Regions from separate parts of the Homo sapiens genome. Here region 2 is linked to region 1. Evidence: fine-mapped expression QTL. A gene starts in region 1. The other region holds a variant in brackets. All regions are shown on one strand. Distances are from middle to middle. Region 1 holds the start of C6orf62 (chromosome 6 open reading frame 62). Region 2 holds the start of LINC02828 (long intergenic non-protein coding RNA 2828).

The links.
Region 2: its variant is fine-mapped to the expression of C6orf62 in whole blood (TOPMed, PIP above 0.99).

What each region holds. Positions count from the first base shown.
Region 1 is chr6:24,712,416-24,724,435 of GRCh38, reverse strand. C6orf62 (chromosome 6 open reading frame 62) reads left to right here and starts at 5,282. Exons shown (of 5, transcript NM_030939.5): 1 at 5,282-5,896; 2 at 8,112-8,288; 3 at 9,996-10,118. The coding sequence starts at 5,768. RefSeq lists enhancers at 2,439-2,528, 2,579-2,628, 2,220-3,013, 2,759-3,508, 3,808-4,601 and a silencer at 4,069-4,238.
Region 2 is chr6:24,738,750-24,750,769 of GRCh38, reverse strand. LINC02828 (long intergenic non-protein coding RNA 2828) reads right to left here and starts at 8,465. Exons shown (of 3, transcript NR_183315.1): 1 at 8,424-8,465; 2 at 1,622-1,774. It also overlaps the pseudogene AP3S1P1. RefSeq lists an enhancer at 7,156-7,245. The variant A/G (reference allele first, on the strand shown) is at 6,874.

The DNA.
Region 1 (12,020 bases):
TGACTTTTATCTGAATTTCATTGAGAAACGTTTGGTCACGGCTTTTAAAAATTTTAATTCCTTCGACTACCTTCTTATTTTATAGCCCTTTCAAGTTACAGAGAAAATTGAGCTAGCAGTGTTTTCGTCCTCCAGGGGACATTGCTGCTATTTCTTGGCTCATCTCATTAAGACCTAGCACAGTCCCATAACACAGTTTCATAGGATGTGCTCAGCTGTGACCAGGTGTCTCCAATTCTGTTTCACAGTAGCTGAAACTAAAAACTTCATTTTTTCCTCAACATCTGCTCCATACTGTTTTTTTCAGGATTATTATAGTAGTGAAAAAATTCTTCAATGGTGTATTAGATAAAACAACAAAAGCACAAGGGACAAATGAAAAACATAGATAAGTTGGACTTTATTAAAATTAAAGACTTCCGTGCTGCGAAGGATATCACCAAGAAAGTGAAAGGACAGCCCACAGAATAGGGGAGCGTATTTGTAAAGTATATATTTGACAGGGAACTTGTATCTAGAATAAAAAACTTCTACACCTTAATAATTAAAAAAACAATTTTTTAAATTAAAAATGGGTAAAAGGCCGAGCTTGGTGGCTCACACCTGTAATCCCAACACTTTGGGAGGCCGAGGTGGGTGGATCACTTGAGGTCAGGAGTCTGAGACGAGCCTGGCCAACATGGTGAAACTCCGTCTCTACTAAAAATACAAAAATCATCCGGGCATGGTGGTGGGGGCCTGTGGGCCCAGCTACTCGGGGCTGAGGCAGAAGAACTGCTTGAACCCAGGAAGCGGAGGTTGCAGTGAGCTGAGATAATGCCACTGCACTTCAGCCTGGGCAACATAGCGAGACTCTGTCTCAAAAAATAAATAAATAAACAAGTAGATAAATAAAAATGGGCAAAAGTTCTGAATAGACATTTCTCCAAAGAAGATATTAGAACAGCCAATAAGCACATGAAAAGATGCTCAACATCATTAATCGTTGGGGAAAGGAAAATCAAAACCACCATGACATACATCATACCCACTAGGATGGTTATACTAAAAAAGACATAATAACAAGAATGTGGAGAAATTGGAATACACTGCTGGAGGAAATGTAAAATGATGCAACAGACTTGGAAAACATCTGGCAGTTTCTCACATGGTTAAAGATAGAGTTAACATATATCCCAGTAATTCCACTCTTAAGTATATGCCCAAGAGAATTAAAAACATACGTCTATACAAAAGCTTTTAAGTAAATGTTCATAGCAGCATTATTTATAACAGCCAAAAGGCAGAGACAACTCAAATGTCCATCAACTGATGAATGAATATAGAATTTCATACAATACATATTATTCCACAATAAAAAGGAATTAAGTACTGATACATGCTACAACATGGATGAACCTTGAAAACATTATGCTAAGTGAAGAAGCCAGTCACAAAAGACCACATATTAAATGATTTCATTTATATGAAATTTCAGAAACGGCAAATCTATAGACAGAACATAAACTAGAAAGAAGAGAAGTGACTGCTAATAGGTACAGGGTTTCTTTTTGGGGTAATGTAATGGCTGCACAACACTGAATATATTAAAAACCATTGGATTGTACACTTCAAGTAGATAAATACGGTATGTGAATTATATTTCAATAAAGCTGTTATTTTAAAAATTCTTCCATGAAGTTGATCATGGATACAAGTCAAGGCCAGGTCAAGAACATATAAGCCGGCTGGGAATGGTGGCTCATGCCTGTAATCCCAACACTTTGGGAGGTTGAGGCAGGCGGATCACCTGAAGATCATACTGGCTTGTATGTCTCATATGTTTGTTTGTTTTTTTTTTTTTTTCCGACGGAGTCTCACTCTGTTGCCCAGGCTGGAGTGCAATGGTGCGATCTCGGCTCACTGCAATCTCCGCCTCCCGGGTTCAAGCGATTCTCCTGCCTCAGCCTCTCGAGTAGCTGGGACTGCAGGCGCCTGCCACCAAGCCAGGCTGATTTTAGTATTTTCAGTAGAGACGAGGTTTCACCATGTTGGCCAGGCTGGTCTCGAACTCCTGACCTTAGGTGATCCGCCTGCCTCGGTCTCCCAAAGTGCTGGCATTACAGGCGTGAGCCACCATGCTCGGCTTACTTTTAAAAATCTTTCTTTTTTAAACCAATGCTCTAAACTACGTGACATTTTCTGTTTTATCTCTGTGAGCTTTCCATAGTTACATGATTTTGAAAACAAATCAGCAAAGCACTAGCAAAATGCAAGCTGTATCTTCCGAGATTAGAAGTTATTTGGAAATCTCAGGACTCATCCTTTGGTTCTGGACAATTTATATTGAAGGGTGGGTACCAGTTATTCTTTTGGCTCATGGCTGAAATAATGTTATTACAGCTGATCTGTTTTGACTTCACGAAGTGAAAAGTAGTAATTGGGGTCCCAATGGACTTCTAAAATCTCAGAGTAGCCAATGAGTATATAAGCATTGCTTATGTGGAGTATTGACCTTTGCTAAGTACTTACATAACTGTGTTTTAAAGAGCACATTAGAGCTTTGAAAAATGGACTCAACGCTTTTTGGTGCCAAGGACGTGCGACTCGGCGGCAAACGTTTCGATGAAGACAGTGAACCACCTAAGGGGCAGGCTGTAGGTCTGAGGTCTTGGGGGATTCTAACAGAAAGTGTGTTCTGACAGCAGTGGGTAAAAATCCACGAGTCAGACTGGGCTGCTCCTCTCCTAAGCCACAGCAGCAACGTCTGAACAACGTCTTTGACCTTGTTCGAAGCTTGAGGACCGCCCTCCCTGCCTGCGCACGTGGCGGGGTGGGGACAGAGGCAAGTAGCACTAACATGAGACATCTGCTCCCGCACGCCGTTTAAATTCCAGGTGTCGAATTGAGTTCTAGGTTTGTTGCCGCAGGATACCGCGGGGCCGACCCCCAGGACTAACTAATTATAAGAATCGAAATAAGAATCTTCCAATCTCCAACACACACTTTCCTTTTCCTTCTTTGCTCCGCCCCTACCCTCGCCCACTCTCCGCCGACTTCCGCAGTTTTGGCCCGCCCAGGTCGCTAGTTCGGCTCTGTCACGCGCCCAGCCTGACTCTGAGAGGCTGACGAGACTCGGGAAGTGCGACTCCATCCGGGTGTTTTGTTGAGGATGGTTGAGGGCGTGCTTTTATGACGACATCGGGGCGGGGCGAAGAGCCAACTCAGGAGACTGGGACTTCCTGAAGAAGGGGGGCGGAAGGAGTGGCGGGGAGCCCCCCCCTTTCCACGCCCCTTGGATACTCCATACTGGAGGAGAGAGGAGTCTCAACTCTCAAACTCCCCTTTTGAGGGGCGATTACTGAAATGGAGAGGTTAAATTCAAAGGCTCCACTTTTAAAAGACCTGTCCCTATTCCGTACTCTTGATCTGTTTTCCTCTTTTTCGGTAACCTTGAAAACTTTCCCACCTCCAATCCTTTCTCCCCCTTTGATTCTGCGCAAATGGTGGGGTCCCGCAGGGCGCGCAGTCGCAGTCACACCGGGGCGGTGCCGGTGAGAGGCGGGTGACGCAGCGGCCGTCGCTGCCATTTTAAGTTGTTTGTTCTCGCTTCTTTTCTCAAACGCGACTCTGCCCCGGACCCGCGAGGCGCCCGAGGCCTTCGCCGCTTCTGCAGCCACCGGCGGGGGGGGGAACGAGGCAGTACTGCCGCGGACGCTCACCAACCGCTTCGGCTTTTCCCCCCTCCGGGTCTCCTCGACCTTTCCTGAGAGCCGGAATCCGACTGTAGGGGGAAGAAAGACTCAAGAGCAGATGCTTGAACTGAAATAACTTTATTTTGGGGGGTTACTTTGCTGACCCTTAGCGCAGGGCTTCCTTTCCCTTCCCCCTCCGCCGCCAGTACCAATCCAACTCCCCATCTTTCTCTTTGTTTTTCCTCTTTTTCTTTTTCTCTCCCTGTTGCCGCTGTCTCCGCGTCCTTCCCCTCCGTTGCCGCCCAGGGCGCCGAGCCAGACTATGGGTCCCAGGTGGGGGCTGAGCGGCGGCAGCAGCGCGGGCGGTCCAGTCACGGTGCGCACTGCAGCGGGGATGGAGGGGCTCAGTTGGCTGGTGGTTTTCTCTTGACATGGCTCCTGCCCGTGCTACCAGCAGCGCCCCCGCCGCCGCCGCCTCTTCCGCCGCCGCCACCGCTCCGCCCGCAGGCTGCGGCTAGAGGGCCCAAACCCCGCCCTAGAGTCGGTCCGTGAGTCCCGGGCTCCGCGGGGACAGGGAGGGGATTTCCCCGTCACCCACCCCGCCCTAGCTGCCTCAATTCCACCCCCTGCCCCTCGGGAAACAACTAACGACCCCACCCTAAACAATCCAAACTCTGGAAACATGGTCTGTTCAACGTGAGAGAGAGCTAATCCGGGAACTTAATTTTTTGGGGGGAGGGTGGGTGGGCTTACTTTAGAAGTAATATTAACACAATTATTTTCTTTTTTTCCCCCACTGAACCTTCCCATTTACCCTCTCCCGCCCACTCCACCCGGGCGGGAATTGTTTCCACGATGAAATGAGTGAAAACCTGAGTGATCCTGTGTCTCCCGTGGTGCGAGTGAGTCGCTGCCGCTGAAGGCAAGGGGTGGGGGTGGGACCTGCGGGGGTGGAAGGCAGGTGGTCTCCGGGCACCGCCTGGGATTTGGGAGAAGAACCCGCCACCTTTGCCTCGGCAATGCTCACAAGAAGATAAATCGCACTCCCCACCATTTTGAACGGGGGCAGATCCACAGGGAAGTCTCCCTTGGGGAATGTAGGACTAGTTGCAGGCTGGGGGTGTTGGGAACCCGGGCATTAATCAGGTCTAACCACAGAGCCGGAATAATTAATACCGTATTATATACCCCTTTTCCTTCTGCCGTCATGATTCTCCTTGGCAGCAGCGTTAGCAGCCGCCTGAGGGTGAAAATGTGGGTGATGGGGAAGTTGGTAATGACTCCGCTGTTTTTTCTCATGGCTCCTTTGGGCCACAGCTGCCCGCCCCCGGTATACACTGTAGTTGATTGCAGGGAAACCCTGTACCTCTCCCTTTCCTTCTCTACCGATTTTGCACTTTTCTCTATGCTCACCACCAAGTGTAATCAATAACAAGCACTGACAATACATAGCAATAGTGAAATCTGAAATAACTAAGAATTAGGTACTACAGCCATGGAGCTGGCTGGGTAAAATCTAATTGGATATTTCAGTTTCATTCACCTACCCTGTTTTGGTGTTTGGTTTTGGTTTTGGTTTTGGTGAGTTTTTTTTTTTTTTTTTTTTGGAAAGCAAGGATCACACTTCCCCCTCCCTGTTCCTTAATCCCTTTTCTAAAAAGGGGGGAAAATCCGGATGGATTTTAGGGATTGGTCTGGTGTCAGCTGTGTTTTATTGCACACCTAAATCCTGATTATAGGCTTTTCATTTCTCCGCAAAGCCTTTATTTTGGCAGTTAAGCCAAATGTGTTTTCCAGAAAGTTAGTTATTTTCTCCTCTTTCTTTCCTTTCTTTCCTCCCTTTTTCCCGTCTGACCCCAAACGTTATTGTCCAAACATGACTGGACAGCAGCTTTTGTTTCTTGACCCTGTAATATGACAGTCTGCTAATATTGACAGAAGGTGCAGTTTTTGGGTTATAGTCGTGATTTTCGCTAATCAATCATATTAGCAGGAAAAAAAATGACTTGTTTCTGTTGTACTTGAGTCTTAAGAAAAAGTGCCCATAGTTTAGTGACAATTTCCAAAGGCTTTAGTACCACCTGTATTTCAAAATGGGGGACCCAAACTCCCGGAAGAAACAAGCTCTGAACAGACTACGTGCTCAGCTTAGAAAGAAAAAAGAATCTCTAGCTGACCAGTTTGACTTCAAGATGTATATTGCCTTTGTATTCAAGGAGAAGGTAATTTAAAGTTCTTAATGGTGAATTAGCACAAGTAATTTTTGTAAGTGTATATTATTTGTTACTCTTAAATTATTATGAATATTAGGTTAAAGAGTGGTTGAAAAAAAGTCTGCTTTGTATGCTCTGTTTTTTCACCCTTAGGGGTGATTCTGTGAATTGAGCAGTTGCAGCATGCGAAAAGACCCTTGAGCGTTCTTTGGTTTGGAAATAAATTTGAGTCTGAAGCTTAGTAGTAGTATACACTGAGTTGACATGGGGTGGGCAAGATTACAAAATTTTATATGGAGTTAACATGGGAAACCTTATGATGGAATTTAAAGATTATCTAATGTAGAGTATAAATAAGATGGTTGAAAGTGTGAAATTGTAATCAGACTGTTTATATGCTAAAGTTTATCCTGTTTCTTAAACTGCGTAATGTAGGTAACCTTTTCTCTTACATTTAATGAAGTAGAATACACCTTTTAGGAGCAATTAAATACTGAAATGGTTAATTTGTGTTTAGAAGTGTGATTTTCTTTTTTACTTAGAGTTCATTTTGCCTTGTATAGAAGTACAGTTTTTAAAAACTCAAAATGACCTAGAGGAAGTTTCATTTTTAGGGGCGGTGGAGGTCTTAATCAGAATTAGTTCCGCAGTTAAATAGCAAACAGTAAGTTGTGAGTAGTCAAGGATGGGATGATAAGAGCAGTATTTTTTGCAACTTAAAATGAACATTTTCTTAAATTATCAGCAAGGCTTATTTGACCAAAGATGAGGTTATGAATGTAAGGAAGTGCTACTTGGATTTTGGTGCTTAAATTGTTAGCTAATTTCAGATCAGAAATACAATCTTAGTGTGGTATCTATTAAGTATCTGGAAGTTTTCCAGGTTTCCCCCTACTGTTTAACTCTTATTATTTTTGTTGCTGAGACAGGCCTCACTGTATTGCCCAGGCTAGTCTTGAACTCCTGGGCTAAAGTGATCCTCCTGTCATGGCATTTTAAAGTGCTGGGATTACAGGCAGGAGCTGCCACGCACAGCCCCAACTCTTAACTCCTAAAAGGTTATTTGTATTTAAGAACATTCTTAGCTGCTGAAGTATAGCATTGTGAAGTGATTTTTAAGTAATTTTTGAAGTGACTGTCCCAAGATTGGGTGGTATCAAGGACTTACATCTCCACTTTTGTTTTGTTGACAAGCTGACTCAAAATTGATGAGATTGGATTTTAGTTGAAGATGATACAGTGTATGCTCTTTAAATAAATCCAAGATAATAAGTAGTGAGACCATATCTTTGTATTTAATCTATATATTGCCCCAAATTGCACCATCTTAATTCTTTAACACCAACGATAATCTGGTTTTATTCTGTGAATGGACAGTGTCCATGCAGTTGCCCTGAATAATTCATGATATATACTTAATAGTACAGAATTTTAAAAAGTAGTTTAGTGATGCGTACTTGGTCTTGAGTAGTATTAAAAGAGAACTTGGTGTGCTTCTTTTTAGTCTTTCAAATATTGATGGTTTTGGCTGGGTGCAGTGGCTCACGGCTGTAATCCCAGCACTTTGGGAGGCTGAGGCAGGCGGATCACTTGAGGTCAGGAGTTCAAGGCCAGCCTGGCCAAATGGTGAAACCCTGTCTCTACTGAAAATACAAAAATTAGCCAGGTGTGGTGGCGCAGGCCTGTAATCCCAGCTACTCGAGAGGCTGAGGCAGGAGATCCCCTCGAACCCAGGAGGCAGAGGTTGCAAGTGAGCCAAGATGGTGCCACTGCCCTCTAGCCTGGGCAACACAGTGAGACTCCATCTCAAAAAAAAAAAAGAAAAACCAGAAATATTGATGGTTTTGATAATGTAATATTGAGAAAGTAATGGAAATTGGCCCATATAAGGAATAAAACTATTCATTTGTCTGAATAGCGTTGTTTTAAAACTGGTGAGATTTTTAATTTTAAGAAGTATTGTCCAAAATAGTGCTATGGATACCATTATGCTATAAAACTCAAGCATTAAACATTCTAATGACAGTTTGTACATGTATGGTTGGAGGGGGAGGTAGGGGAAGAACAGAAGGAATTACCTATCTGAAAATGTGTTTTCAGTGTATAAGTTACTGCAGACAGTTAAGAATTTTGTGGAGTTAATGTTACATGACATTGTAATATGAACTGAGTGTTAAAAGGCTGTGCTCCCTGTGGGTTAATACACCATTTTCTTTTCTTCTAGAAGAAAAAGTCAGCACTTTTTGAAGTGTCTGAGGTTATACCAGTCATGACAAATAATTATGAAGAAAATATCCTGAAAGGTGTGCGAGATTCCAGCTATTCCTTGGAAAGTTCCCTAGAGCTTTTACAGAAGGATGTGGTACAGCTCCATGCTCCTCGATATCAGTCTATGAGAAGGGTAAGTTCTGCCTTAAGTCTTGACTTGATAAAGTTTCTGTGGATTAACCTTGCATTTCCCCGCCCCCCGAACCCCCCTTAAAGTGGATAGTTATGATAGTGACCAGTCTCTTCAGGTAAATTTGTCTTTGTGCCATGTTGATAACTGGGATCATGACTTTAAAGCATTGTGTTTATAGGATTAGAAAAACACGTTTTTTTACGCCAGACCATTCTTATGTGGATGAAGTATATAAAGGGATTTCTTTAATCTGTGTTAGGTGTTGATGATCTCGGACTTTTTTTTTTTTTTTTTTTTTTGAGACAAAGTCTTGCTCTTTCGCTGAGGCTAGAGTGCAGTGGCATGATCTTGGCTCACTGCAACCTCTGCCCTCGCGCATTCAAATGATTCTCCTGCCTTAGCCTCCCGAGTAGCTGGGACTACAGTTGTGCGCCACCATGCCTGGCTAATTTTTTGTGTTTTTAGTAGAGATGGGGTTTTGCCATGTTGGCTAGGCTGGTCTGGAACTCCTGACCTCAAGTGATCCTCCTGCCTTGGCCTCCCAAAGTGCTGAGATTACAGGTGTGAGCCACTGCACCCTGCCAGTAGCCAACTGTTTTTAATAATTTAAGTGTTATGCAGAAAGTTTAAAAATTTTTGAAGTAGGTTTGTTTTTGAAAACTTGACCTTGAGTAAAACATGGACAACTTTGTTGTATTAGGCTCATAATATTGTGTATTATTATTGTGGATAAATGTCTTATGTCTCCGTTTATTGTATTTCCTTTTTTGGGGGGAATATGAATATAAGGAAGTGCTTCCAGCTTTGTAAACTTCTGCAACATGTTAAAAGTTAATCTGGGCATACCTGAACCAAGAGATCCCCACAGTTACTTGGGGAGAATGCTGGAGATAACCAGATACTGGTCTGGAAGAAATTATGGACCTTCAAAAATTAATATGCTGGCTACAATAATGAAGCAGAAGTCAGGAATGGAGAAAAGTAGTTTTCTATCAAAATAAAAATAGCATTTCAGCTATAATAGGATAGTGATTCATATTAGGAGTTCTAAGACATCTTTTTAAATAGATTGATTTTTAAAGGTGGAAATAAAGGTTCAGGGTCTGACAATACAACAGATATCAGAGATTTTGTTGGAGTTTTCACCATGCACTGATAAGTCTAGGTCTTGGTGTTAGGAGCATTGGACTGAGTGTATGTGACTCTCTGTAAGATAAAAATTAAAATTAGAGCCAGGCACAGTGACTTAGCCTGTAATCCCAGCACTTCGGGAGGCTGAGGTGGGTGGATCACCTGAGGTCAGGAGTTCGAGACCAGCCTGGCTGACGTGGTGAAACCCCGTCTCTATTAAAAATACAAAAAATATTAGCGGGGCATGGTGGCACACACTTGTAATCCCAGCCATTCGGGAGGCTAAGTCACGAGAATCGCTTGAACCTGGTAGGCGGAATTTGCAGTAAGCGGAGATTGCACCATTGCACTCCAGTGTGGGCCACAGAGAGGGACTCTGTCTCCAAAAATAAAAAATTACATCATGAGCTATTCAGATTATAAACTATTATGTTTACTTCCTAAGATATAAAATGATATATGGTAGATCTTTTGTACTTATAAAATGTTTTTATAGGGGAACCCTATAATTTGTGACATGGCTTGATGTAGCTGTTTCTTTAAAAGTAAACTTTTTTTTTTTTAATCATTTTATAGGATGTAATTGGCTGTACTCAGGAGATGGATTTCATTCTTTGGCCTCGGAATGATATTGAAAAAATCGTCTGTCTCCTGTTTTCTAGGTGGAAAGAATCTGATGAGCCTTTTAGGCCTGTTCAGGTATTTTGGTCTAAAGTGTGATGAGTATTTCAATATGTGAAAACTACTAGAATATAATAGGGTCTAACTTGAGAAATTCTTTGGGAAAATGGTTTCTGATAGTTTTATTTCACGAGTCTCCCCTATTTAGAATATTGTGATGCAAGAGAAGAAAGCGTTTGGATTATAGAATCTCTTGACAGTGTGGTGGTTCCACCTGCCCAGTGTGGCTTTGAAATTATGACTAGAGAAAATCTTTTAAAGTGGACATTTACTGATTTATAGAGGGGCCCACAGATGAGCTTCTGAGATCTGTAACTCTTGAAGCCTTCACCACACATCCTTCTAAAACCGTATATTTAACTGCTGCTTCCCAAAGGAATGTGATCTGAAATGGGTGAAGAAATCATTTTGTAGAAGTTGATCTGTATATAAAATTATAGAAGAAAGAAGTAAATTTAGTAGTCATTCTTAACCTTAAAATCTTGCTGACTTTTGACTGTTTGTCATGGTATACTAGACATTGCTCAAGTGAATCCCCCCTCTAGTGTTAAGGGCATTTACTCATGTTGAACCTAGTTTTATTTACAGTATATTTGTATGCATAGAAGATGGAGGTCCACCAAAGTGTTAATTATGCTTAGTTGTAGGTCAGGTATAGCTAACTTTCCTTTTTTAATATATATATTTACATTTGTGTTTCCTTTATAATTTATGGCATAGATTGCCACGATTTTCTTAAGTATACTTTTATAATCAGAAAAATGATATTAAGGACTCATTTTAAGTACACTAAATCAAATATTAGAAGGCTTCTTTATTTTAAGCTAATTGTGAGGATTATTTGTCATTTAAAACTTTTGCTTCTACTTATTACCCTGAAGTATCTTTGTGGTGCTTATGTTTTTCACAGACTGTATAAATTGATATACTCTCCCGCCCCATGGTAATGTTGCTACACATAAGCTCTAATAATTATCATTTTTAATGTTTTAAGATTAATTCAACTAAGTTTTAAAAATAATCCATTGGTTACATACATAAGAAAGTACTGTATACAGATTCCCCTGACTTATAATGGTTCGACTTAAGATTTTTTCAACTTTACCATGATGTGAAAGCCATATGAATTCATTGTGCTCCTCGATTTATGATGGGACTACATCCAGGTGAAGTCATTGTAAATTGGAATTGTTGTAAGTTCAAAAGTCACTTTTTGATTTAAAATACGTGTAACTTACACTGGGTTTATCAGGATGTAACATCACAAGTCGTGGAGCATCTGTATTTCGGTCATTTAATGGATGATATCTGACTGAAGGGAGAAAATGAATATAAAAGGCATGAAAACAGGAATAGAAAAGGCATGTTTAAAGTTCTCAGCGCAGGGCTGATAACTCTAGCTGCTCTCTGGAGGTGGTGTTAGGATTTTGTTGTTTTTTAGTTAAGGATTTCCCACTGGAAAAATGTAGGTCTGCTTATTACAGTATGTTTTCAAATTTCTAATACCCTGCCTTTCCCACTGGGACCTTATTTGAAATAGTTGAGTTAACTTTAGTCTTGTGTCAAATAGTACTCTTTGAAGTCATGGCTGATGTTTATTGAGAGTTGACTGTACTAGTTTCAGCTTTTTTTTTTTTTTTTTTTTGAGACAGAGTCTCACTCTGTTGCCAGATTGGAGTGCAGTAGTGTGATCTTGGCTCACTGCAACCTCCTCCTCCTTGCAACCTCTGCCTCCGCCTCCCTGGTTCAAATGATTCTCCTGCCTTAGCCTCCCGAGTAGCTGGGTCTACAGGGACATGCCACCACGCCCAGCTAATTTTTGTATTTTTAGTAGAGACGGGTTTTCACCATGTTGGCCGGGATGGTCTCGATCTCTTGACCTCGTGATTCACCCGCCTCGGCCTCCCAAAGTGCTGGGAT
Region 2 (12,020 bases), 26 kb before region 1:
TATCAGCTGTATAGAATATAAACCCTCCCAAGAGTCCAAGAAACATTAACACTGGTGACATCGGTATAAAAGTGCCAAACCTGCCCTCTTTTAGATAAAAAATGTAAAAGACTATTTTCAGTAAAATCCAGGGGAAAAGGTCATCCAAGTTTACCTTGTAGTTGTTTACCAAAACTAAAGGAGAGTCTTAACTTTTGCTCTTGGATTTAAGTCAAGGTACTGTACAGAAGTTATATAAAATCGGTATGTGAAGTTCAATGTACCTTTTCTTGTTCAGTGATTTTTAAAGAAATCAGATAGTTCCAGTGTGATTTGTTTTCTTTTCTAAACTTCTATGCTCACCAAAGTCATTCCCTATATATTGGCTACTATGATATTTTGAAAAGTGTTTGTGATATTTCGTTATGTATCACCCAAAACATTGGTATTTTGTATGGATTACAAGTGCAGCATTCCTTAAGTCTTTCTGCTATCTGTGACAATTGTCACTTAAAGAACTAAGTGTATATTGTGTGAAAATATTATGACTTATTTATTTATTTATTTGAGACAGAGTCTCACTCTGTCACCCAGGCTGGAGTGCCATGGCGCGATCTCAGCTCACTGCAACCACCACCTCCTGGGTTCAAGAGAGTCTCATGCCTCAGCCTCCCAAATAGCTGGGATTACAGGCATGCATCATCACGTCCAGCTAATTTTTGTATTTTTAGTAGAGACAGGGTTGGCCAGGCTGGTCTCGAACTCCTGACCTCAAGTGATCTGCCTACCTGGACCTCCTAAATTGCTAGGATTACAGGCATGAGCCACCACACCTGGCCATGACCTTTTTTCTTAGTTTAAATAAACTGCAATACAAAAATTCAAGTGAAACAATTTTTATAGGTCTATAACACAATATTATCTGCAGTCCATTAGATTAGGTATGGCTGTGAACATTTAATCATAACTTTTCAGTTGCAATTTTATGTTCACATTATATTTGGATACCTCTCAATATTTTTAAAAGAAAATTTTCAACCATATATGGCTGGTCCACAGATTTGTCACATCCCCTTTGTTTTGAAAATTTTCAAATGTATATGAAAATGGAAAGAATATTATTATGAAAGCCTGTATACTCTCTGCCTAGATTCAACAACTGTCATCATCTTGACAAATTTATTTAACGCTCTGTATATCGTTTTTTAAAAACTGAACCATTTGAAAGTCATTATGACACTTGCTTCTTCTAGTTCCTCTCCCTCTTCCTGAGTTTTTAGTTTTGTTTTCCGACTTCCTATACATGGGTTCCTTTTTCTAGCAACCTTACATAGCCTTCTTAAAAAGGAGAGAAGTTCTCTTAACTTTATGTTCATCTCCAGCTACCACCATCTGTCTCTTTCTTTCTCACAGCCCACTTTCTCAAAGCAGAGTCCACACTGCTGTTTCTACTTCCTCCCTCTCAGTGGGCCTCACTGGACTGTGGTGTGCCATCCACACAACTTCACCTTGGCACCATCTGGAGCCTCACGACTGGGAAACTCAACAGAGGCCAGGCTCCTCTCTTTGGCATATTTCATACTGTTGAGCTCCATCTTGAAATCCGTTCCTCCTGCCAGGGCATCGTTCACTTCTGACTCACCTGCTTTTCCAGCTGTCCCTGCTCGGGACCCTTCGTCAACTCTCCTTTCTACTTGCCTCTTGAATCTGGGCATTCTAAATGGCCCCATCTCCATCCTTAGTCTCAAATCAAGAGCTTAACCATTTTGTCCCTTATTACCGGAATTTCACGTATCTGTAAGAAGATGGAGAGAAACTCTTTATGTGAGAGAACCCATGAGGATGTCTGCTTCATGAACTGCTTCATTTTGATCCTCCAGTTATAGTTCTTCCGGCTTTTGCAGTTTTAATAAAACCACACCCAGAGGCTATTCAGAAGAAGGAATGCAGGTAAAAGGCAAAAATGATCTTGCTTGTTAGTGACCTAGAGACAAGATTTGATGGAGAAAGAAGCAGAATATTGTCTTTTTTTTTTTTTTTTTTTTTTTTGAGACGGAGTCTCGTTCTGTCGCCAGGCTGGAGTGCAGTGGTGCGATCTTGGCTCACTGCAACCTCCAACTCCCGGCTTCAAGCAATTCTTCTGCCTCAGCCTCCTGAGTAGCTGGGATTACAGGCACGTGCCACCATGCCCGGCTAAGTTTTGTATTTTTAGTAGAGACGGGGTTTCACCATGTTGGCCAGGGTGGTCTCCATCTCTTGACCTCGTGATTCGCCCACCTCGGCCTCCCAAAGTGCTGAGATTACAGGCATGAGCCACTACACCCAGCCTGTTGTCTTTCTTTATTATGAAGTTGTAGGATGTTATTTATCCATGATAAAGTCCTATCTCCCCCATTTCTACAGCTAATTTAAAGTTGACTATTAGAAACCCTATTCACAGGTCAAATACAGACAACACACATTGATTTCTAGCCATAATGCTTCACAGAGCTAATTAGTCTGTTTTGCTTGCTTGAAAGATCTGTATCTAATTTTTTAAGCATCAAAAGAGAAAAGCATATTCAACTCCTTGTAATACCCAAATGGCAGGTGAACGTTCCCTTCAGGGAACATGTCGCTATTGAGAAAACAACATCTGCGTTAAGAATTAAGCCTAGGATGAGGAGTAGCGGACTTTGAGACTAAGAGAGAAGAAGAATCAGTAGGCAATGGCTTTTGTTGTTGCTCCTTTTTTTTTTTTTTAGACAGAGTCTTGCTCTGTTGCCCAGGCTTGAGTGCAGTGGTACGATCTTGGCTCACTGCAACCTCTGCCTCCATGGTTCAAGTGATTCTCCTACCTCAGCCTCCCGAGTAGCTGGGATTACAGGCACACACCACCATGCTCAGCTAATTTTGTATTTTTAGTAGAGACGGGGTTTCACTATGTTGTTCAGGCTGGTCTCGAACTCCTGACCTCAGGTGATTCACTTGCCTTGGCCTCCCAAAGAACTGGGATTACAGGCGTGAGCCACTGCACCTGGCCTATTGTTGTTGTCTCTACATGGAGTAAGAAAGTGGATACTTAAATCAGTAAAATGCAGAAAATTAATTAGCTTGTCAGATGAGCATTCATAAGCTTTTTCTTTCTTTTCTTTCTTTCCTTCCTTCCTTCCTTCCTCCCTCCCTCCCTCCCTTCTTTCTTTGTCTTTTCTTTTCTTTCTTTCTTTTTTTGAGACAGGATCTCACTCTGTCACCCAGGCTGGAGTGTTGTAGTGACACAGTCAAGGAGTCTTGAACTCCCAACCTTTAACTGCAGCCTTGAACTTCCAGGCTCAAGCAATCCTCCCACCTTAGCCTCTGGAGTAGCTGGGACTACAGATGTGTGCTTCCATACATGGCTAATTTTTTAAAATTTTTATTGTAGAGATGGGGGTCTTGCTATGTTGCCCAGGCTGCTTTTGAACTTCTGGCCTCAGGTGATCCTCACGCCTCAGCCTCCCAAAGTGCTAGTATTACAGATGTGAGCCACTGCCCCTGGTCACATAACCTACTCTTAATCTAATTTAGTTTAGAGACTAAACTAATTACTGATCTTTTATGCCTGCTTTATTATAAAATGGCAGCCCAGTTGTAACAACTTAACACTGATTTTATTATCAAAAGTCTAGTACAGGTGAAATACAAATGAAGACTAGAGTTTAGTTAATAGTATCGTGTCGATGTTGGTTTCCTATTTTGGCAGCTGTACCATAGAATGTAAAAATGTTAACATTGGGGGAAAGTGAGCGAGGGTTATATGGAAACTCTATAATATTTTTGCAACTTTTCTGTAAATGTAAAATTGTTCTAAAATAAAAAGGTTATTTTAAAAAAACAAGTCTAGCATGTGGCAATGATTATAACAATGGATGTCTGGATAACGACCTGCTCAGTGTTCTCCAGATAGTTACTATAGTCATTAAAGTTATACATAATAAAAAGCATAATGACAGTTTTGGCACATTCCAAGTAAAATCGGTGTTTTAAAAATCAGCTCAGGTTATCCGTTTAAACTAACAAACAACTGATAAAGCACAATCAGACCAAGAACAGTTCTCTAATATTTTGTAGACTATGTGGAAGTCCTGTCTTCCTTGAGGCTAAAATAAATCGGATGAGACCAGACTAAGAGAAAACAATCTTCTGCCAGTTTCTTTTGCATTTCTGGCTTATTCGGAAAGAAAGACAAAGAAGCTGAGTGGATCAGATGCTCAGGTGTTCCTTCTTTTTCATTCTGGTACCTGGATATGCCTGAGTTGGGGTAAATGGTAAGATCCCCAAATCCATGAGACAGGGCTCATTTAACAAATAATTTGGGGTCAGGCTTGGTGGTTCATGCCTGTAATCCCAACACTTTGGGAGGCTGAGGCAGGTGGATCACTTGAGGCCAGGAATGAGTTTGAAACCAGTCTGGTCAATATAGCGAGACCCCCATCTCTACAAAAGAAAAAAATTAGCCAGGCATAGTGGTGCATGCCATGCCTATAGTCCTAGCTACTCAGGACTTGAGCAATCCCCGAGTAGCTAGGACTTGCAAGAGGATTGCCTGAGCCCAGGAGTTCGAGGCTGCAGTGAGCTTGGATCATGCTACTACACTTCAGCCTGGGCAACAGAACGAGCCTTGTGTCAAAAAAACAAACAAACAAACAAACAAAAAACACCAAAATATTTTTGTAGAGCTCATTAAGGATCTTATATCTTCTCTGTAAACAAACAAACAAACAAACTAAAGAATCTCTGTCCATTATGATTCTCATTGATCTTACCTCAGCTTTTAACATTTAGTTTTATAGACCAGTCATTGGCAAACAATGACCCACAGGCCAAATCTGCCTCATCTTCTTTTTCATTACAGCCTGGGAGTTAAGAATGGTTTTTGGGCCGGGCGCTGTGGCTCATGCCTGTAGTCCCAGCACTTTAGGAGGCTGAGGCAGGCGGATCACTTGAGGTCAGGAGTTCAAGACCAGCCTGGCCAACATGGTGAAACCCCATCTCTACTACTAAAAATACAAAAATTAGCTGGGCGTGGCTGTGAATGCCTGTAGTCCCAGCTACTTTGGAGGCTGAGGCAGGAGAATTGTTTGAACCTGAGAGGCAGAGGTTGCAGTGAGCCAAGATAGAGCCACTGCACTCCAGCCTGGGCGACAGAGCAAGACACAACCAAGCTCACTTGCTCACGCATTGTCTATGACTGCTTTCCTGACACAATGGCAGAACTGAGTAGTAGTGACAGAGACTAGAGGGCCTGCAAAGTCTAATGTAATTACTATCTGACCCTTTACCAAAAAAGTTGGCCAATCCTATAAGGGACAACTTCCTACACACACACAGATCTCCCTCTTGGTTTTCAGAGCAACATTCTCATCTGGCTTTCTACTTTCTCAACTGGCACTCTGGGATTTAAGCGGTGATATGACGGGGTGGTCTGGTGAGGACTAGACTAGGAGTGTGGCTAATCAGGAGGCTGGTGGACACTAATAGAAAGGTAAGACGTCGAGTACCAGAAGAGCTCATTAATATACAATTAAAGAGGTGACGCAGGTCCTATAAGATGTGGGAGAAGGGAAGTTCCATTTTAAGAAGTGAGCTGAGGAATAGGAGACACGAGGCCTGTGTGGTCTAGGCAGACAGTCTAGAAGGTCAACGTCTGCAGGAACTGCATGAACAAGCAGGGTGAAACCAAAGCTGCAGTCTAATCTTAGGGCAAAAGTGATTTCCCCATTTTATACTGCTCTCTGGAATTGGACAGCCTTAGGTCCAAATCTACTTATGACATTCAGAAGGAAATAAAAAACCTGAGGTAACTCCACCTTCTCCACAGATTTAAATCCTGTGTTGGATGCTGAAGAAAAGCTACATATCTCTCCCCTACTAGACTTTCCTCAAAATTCAGTTCCACATAGTACTGAATACTTTATTTATTGATTTATTTAGAGATAGGTCTTGCTATGTTGCCCAAGCTGGACTCAAACTCCTGGGCTCAAATGATCCTCTTGCCCCAGCCTCCTGAGTAGCTGGGACTCTGTGCCAGCACACCTGGAGCTGATATTTTTCCTTTCATATCTCATGAAAATAACCTTGGGTTAGAAGCTTGTCCTTCCTTCATGACCAGGCCATACGTTTGGTTCCATTATCAAAGTGAAAGCCATCTCCTTTCCATCCTCCTAAGCAAGAAAATCTCCCTTATATGTCAGTAAAAGTACCAAGCACCTACATTCTTTCTAATTCTCGCCTGCTATCAAGAAAGTATAAAACGAACAATAGTGGGGAGAGAAAAGGTGACGAAGAGAGGGAGGTAGTTTAAGTTGTGCTGATTTCATTATTTTAATAGCCAGGGATGGAAATAAATCATCTAAAGATGATAAATCAAGTACGTGGCAAAAACCGCAATTACTTTTGCACCAACCTAATAGAATAAGTATATTTAGAAACGCAAAGATAAAGGCCAGGCGTGGTGGTTCACGCCTATAATCCTAGCACTTTGGGAGGCCTAAGTGGGTGGATCACTTGAGGCCAGGAGTTCAAGACCAGCCTGGCCAACATGGTGAAACCATGTCTCTACAAAAAAAAAAAAAAAAAAAAAAGCGAAGATAAATACTAAGAACAGCAGAAAAAGGGAAGTGATAGTGTGCTAATTTTGTCAGTGTTCATAGTATGGAGTCAACTGGTTTTGCTTGAAGAAAGAGGATTAGGTTTATTATATAAACTTGTAGTTATAAGGTAACCACTAGAACAAAAATTTATTTCCCTATAAACTATTAGGAAACACACACATGCAAACACAAAGAAAATACAGTCCAGTAGAGAAGTGTTCAAAAAGTAACAACAACAACAAAAACCCAGAAAATATCATACAAAATTTGATACAGAATTAAG[A/G]CCAAACTTATATGTATATGGGCTAAATTCACTGTGACAGACACTGTTGCTTACTCAACAGCCATTTCCCTGCTCCTGCCCCACTGCCTTATTTTGTCTGGGGAATGTACCCAGCCCTAGCAGATGAGTCATTATTAGCTAAGCCAGTCATAGCCATTCTGTGTCCTTCTGTCAGCCTTCCTTACATCTAAGAGTAGTCAGTTATATGGCAAAGAGATTTGAGGGGAAGTCTACTACAGGGCTACTGGGAAAGGTAATCTTTCGCCTGATAAGAGTAGCCCCAGAAGGATAAAGACTTTTACCCTGACTACCCTGTTTTCTGCCTTTGAACTGTGATGTTGGGAGCTGTGGCAGCCATTTTGAATTTATGAGTTAACAAGAATAAGGACTGGCAGAGCAGAAGGAAGGAGCCTAAGATCTGCTGACATTGTTGAGCTCCTGAATGAATGCCAGCTACCAAGTTGCAGCATGACTCATATCTTTACTTCCAACTTTCATTTCTTTCTTCAGGCTTATATTACTAAGAGGTCATGACTAATCTCACTTAACGAAGTATTCCTGTCAAAGCTTTTAGCCATTTGCCTTTGCAGACAGTTTAGACATTTTACTTGGAGCAGAGAATAGTTGATTTTGTGCTAAAAGTCTTCCTAGCAGAGACTCTTCCTGGCTTCAGATGATATCAATGACCTTAATGTTCAGCTTGTGGCATAGAATTCCAGAACTCTGGAAACAGCAATGCAACAACAGAAAATGATTCGGGAAAGAGCTTCTTTAAGGTCACACACATGGATTTCGTAAACGGCCCAGATTGTCTTTAGTTCTTTGTTATTTCTTTTGTTTTACAGATGCTTGAGCTTTTGTTAGTGAATAAGTATTACTATTGCTTGGTATCTTTTACCGAATTCGTATGAAATTCTTATGAATTTTTGCCTGTATGAAATTCATAATCTTACCAATGGGTTTTCTTTCTCTCCTCAAGCTTTCCTTCCATTCCCTTACTTCACATTCAATGAATTTCTTGTGTATGCCACTACCAAGTCTCAAGCTCCTACAATTATTCTAATTTCTACTTCTGTGTATTGGTACGCCATCTCTCCACCTTGCCTCCTCCCTCTCTGGGAGTCTTATCCCCCTCCTTTCTAAAATAAATTCATCTAAGGTGTTCCCAACCATCCTAGGCAAACCTTCAGAGGACTTCACTTCTACTTGGTCTTCCTTTATTCTCCCACTTCATTGGTTCCTTCCCCATTTACCTTCAACGCTACAACAGGTCTCCGTGGATAGTCATGCCCAGCCCCCAGCACACTTTCTGTGGGCTACCTAAGCTCTTAAATGGATGGTAAATGCCTTGGGGTTGCATTTGTTCTCTATCCACAATCTCATCTACTGCATACTTGGCAATGCGGTTTCCATCCTCCCAGCAACACTGAAACTGTTTTCTAAAAGGTCAACAAAGACCTCTTTTTAGTTAAATCCATTATTCTTTTCTGGTTTTTCTTTCTCTGTTTCTCTCTACAGCATTAAAAAGAAAAAAAAAAGATTTCTCATACCTCAAATGTTCGGCTTCCTTGGCTTCTGTCCTATTTGCTAGCAGTTCCTTCCCTTTTTATTGCCTTTTATTTCTCTTGCCATTCCTTTGCTACGTATTCCCTTGCTCCCTATTCTCTCTATCCTTTCACTCCAAAGTCACATTATCTTCCCTGTAGCCATTACCTCTGCGGTTAAAAAGGCCTGTTCTGTTTTCTTTTTCTTTTCTTTCTTTCTTTCTTTCTTTTCTTTTTTTTTTTTTTTTTTGAGATGGAGTCTTGCTCTGTTTCCCAGGCTGGAGTGCAGTGGCTCTGTCTCAGCTCACTGCAACCTCTGCCTCCCAGGTTCAAGCAATTCTCCTTCCTCAGCCTCCCGAGTAGCTGGAATTACAGGCATGTGCCACCATGCCTGGCTAATTTTTGTATTTTTAGTAGAGATGGGGTTTTACCATGTTGGCCAGGTGGTCTCGAACTCCTGACTGCAGGTAATCTGCCCTCCTTGGCCTTCCAAAGTGCTGGGATTACAGGCGTGAGCCGCCATATTTCACTGGGGCTGCAATTTTAAATTTTATTTTATGTATATATGTATTTATTTATTTATTTTAATTTTTTATTTTTTGAGACAGAGTCTCACACTGTAGCCCAGGCTGGAGGGCAGTGGTCAGATATCAGCTCACTGCAACCTCTGCCTCCCAGGCTCAAATGATCCTCCCACCTCAGTCTCCTGAGTAGCTGGGATTACAGGCGTGCACCACCACACCAAGCTAATTTTTTTGTATTTTTAGTAGAGATGGGGTTTTGCCATGTTGGCCAAGCTAGTCTTGAACTCCTGACCTAAAGTAATCTGCCTGCCTTGGCCTGCCAAAGTGCTGGGATTACAGCCATGAGCCACCATGCCTGGCCTTATTTACATATTTATTTTTGAGATGAGGTCTCAGTCTGTCACCCAGACTGGAGTGCAGTGCTGCTGTGATAGATAACTGTAGCCTGAAGCTCCTGGGCTCAAGCAATCCTTCTGCCTCAGCTTCCCAAGTAGCTGGGACTACAGATGCAAGCCACCATGCCCAGATAATTTATGAGTTTTTTGTAGAGATGGCATCTCACTATATTGCCCAGGCTGGTCTTGAACTCCTGGGTTCAGGCAAACCTCCCATGGCTGGGCTCTAGGCTTGGCTTTCCAAAGTGCTGGGGTTATAGGCATGAACCACTATGCCTGGCTGGTGCTGCAATTCAAAATCACCTCCCTTCTCAAACTAGCTCCCTTTCCCACTTTCCTGCCTGTGGTCATGGCATGGTCACTTTCTTAGTCACTGTCTTAGTCTGCTCAGGCTGCCATAACAAAACACCACAGACTGGATAGCTAAAACAACAGAAATTTATTTTCTCACAGTTCTCTGGGTCAGAAGTCCAAGATCAAGATTCTGGCAGGTTTGGTTTCTCCTGAACTCTCTCTCCTTGGCTTGCAGATGGCCATCTTCTTGGTGGGTCCTCACATGGCTTTTATTTTATTTTATTTTTTGCACCAGAGGCAGGGTCTCATTCTGCTGCCTCAGACTCCCGAGCTCAAGCAATGCTCCTGCTTTAGCTTCTCAAGTTGTTGGGATTACAGGCATGCACCACTGTACCCAGCAATGGCCTTTCTTTTGTGCATGTATTTCTGGTTTCTCTCCCTTTTCTTATAAGGACATTAATCATATTGGATTGGAGACCACTCTAATAACTTTTTCACCTCTCTAATAATTTTTTAACCTTAATCATCTCTTTAAAGGTCTTATCTCTAAATACAGGCACATTCTGAAGCATACTAGGGATTAGGATTTCAATATATGAATTTTGGGGAGGCACAATTCAGTCCGTAACAGTTACTCGCACCAAAACTTGGGTGTCCTCTTCACTTACCTCTATCATTTTCTATCCAGATATTTTACTTTCTAGATTTTTTCTATTAAGTGTTTAAATTCATCCTTTTATCACCATTGCCAGTGCCATTTTCAGGCCTTAATCAACTCTAAATTTCCATGCCTGGTCTTTTATAAGGCCCTCTGTAATCTGACCCATCTTGTCTTTTCTTTTAGTATGTTTATCATGTACATTGTAGAAAATATAACACTAAATTTTTGTGTCTGGCTACTTTCACTCAATAAAAAAGCAACAGTCCTCTTCCCTACCCAGACCCATTTCCCAGATGCAGCCTTCATATAGTTGAAAATTCAAAAGGTACCAAAGTCTACACTGTGAAAAATCTCCCTCCCACAGGCAACCAACGTTATTAGTTTATTGTATATCCTGATCTTATAGCTAGTTTGTACCCATGGGTACGTCTACTCATTTTCCCACAAATGGCAGTGTATTAGCCTGTTCTCATACTGTTATGATGAAATATTCACAATTGGGTAATTTATAAAGAAAAAGAGGTTTAATGGACACACAGTTCCATATGGCTGGGGAGGCCTCACAATCATGGCAGAAGGTGAAGGAGGAGCAAAGGTACATCTTAAATGGTGGCAGGCAAGGGCAGGTATGCAGGGGAACTGCCCTTTATAAAACCATCAGATCTTGTGAGATTTATTCACTATCATGAGAACAACATGGAAAAAACCCACCCCCATGATTCAATTACTGCCCACCGGGTCCCTCCCATGACACAAGGGGATTATGGGAGCTACAATTTGAGATGAGATTTGGGTGGGGACACAGCCAAACCATATAAGGCATCATACTGTAGACACTGCTTTACCTATACAAATTGCAATTTTCATTTAATATAACAAAAATAGCAAGCAGTTCTCAAGCACTTTCTATTTTTCTATTAGTATTCTGAATGCTTTGCATGTTTTAACTCATTTAATCCTTGAGATAACCTCCTGGAGTAAGAGCTATTATAATCCCCATTTTACAAATGAGAAAACTGAGACACAAAGCCTAGGATTGGCAGAACTAGATTTGAACCCAGCAGGCAAGCCCTCAGAGCTCAGTACTTAACCATGATAGCATGTTACTATGTCTTAGGGATTGTTCTATATCTGGACATAAAGAATGTTTGCATCCTTTTTAAGCTTTTCTTTTATTGGAGTTGAAACATATGCTCAGGAAGGTGCACAAACCATATGTACAGATGAAGGAATCATTAGAGAGTGAAGATACCTGTATAATCACCACCTAGCTCAAGAAACCAGAACCCCAGAAGCACCCTCTCCTCTCATGTGCTCCTAATTAAAGCTTACAGCGATTATAAAATATAGTCCCCAAATACTACTTTGACACCATTCCTCACATCGAGAAATAATGTCTCTATCTCCTGCCCTTGAATCAAGATTGACAGCTTAACCCATAGAGTACTGCAGAAGTGATACTGTGCCAGTTTTCAGGCCAGGCCTTAAGAAACTGGCAGCTTTCTCTTCCTGTTTCTTGGGATGTTTGCTCTTGGAATCCAGCCACCATGATAAAGAAAAACCATGCAGCTACATGAGAGGACAAGTGTAGGTATTCTGGCCAACAGTCCCTGAGGTCCCAGCAAACAGTCGGCATTAACTGCCAGACATGTAAGTGGGTAAGACTCCCAGTGATTTCACCTCCAAGTCTCAAGTCCCCAACAACACCCGCCCTCACTGCCCCCAGCCT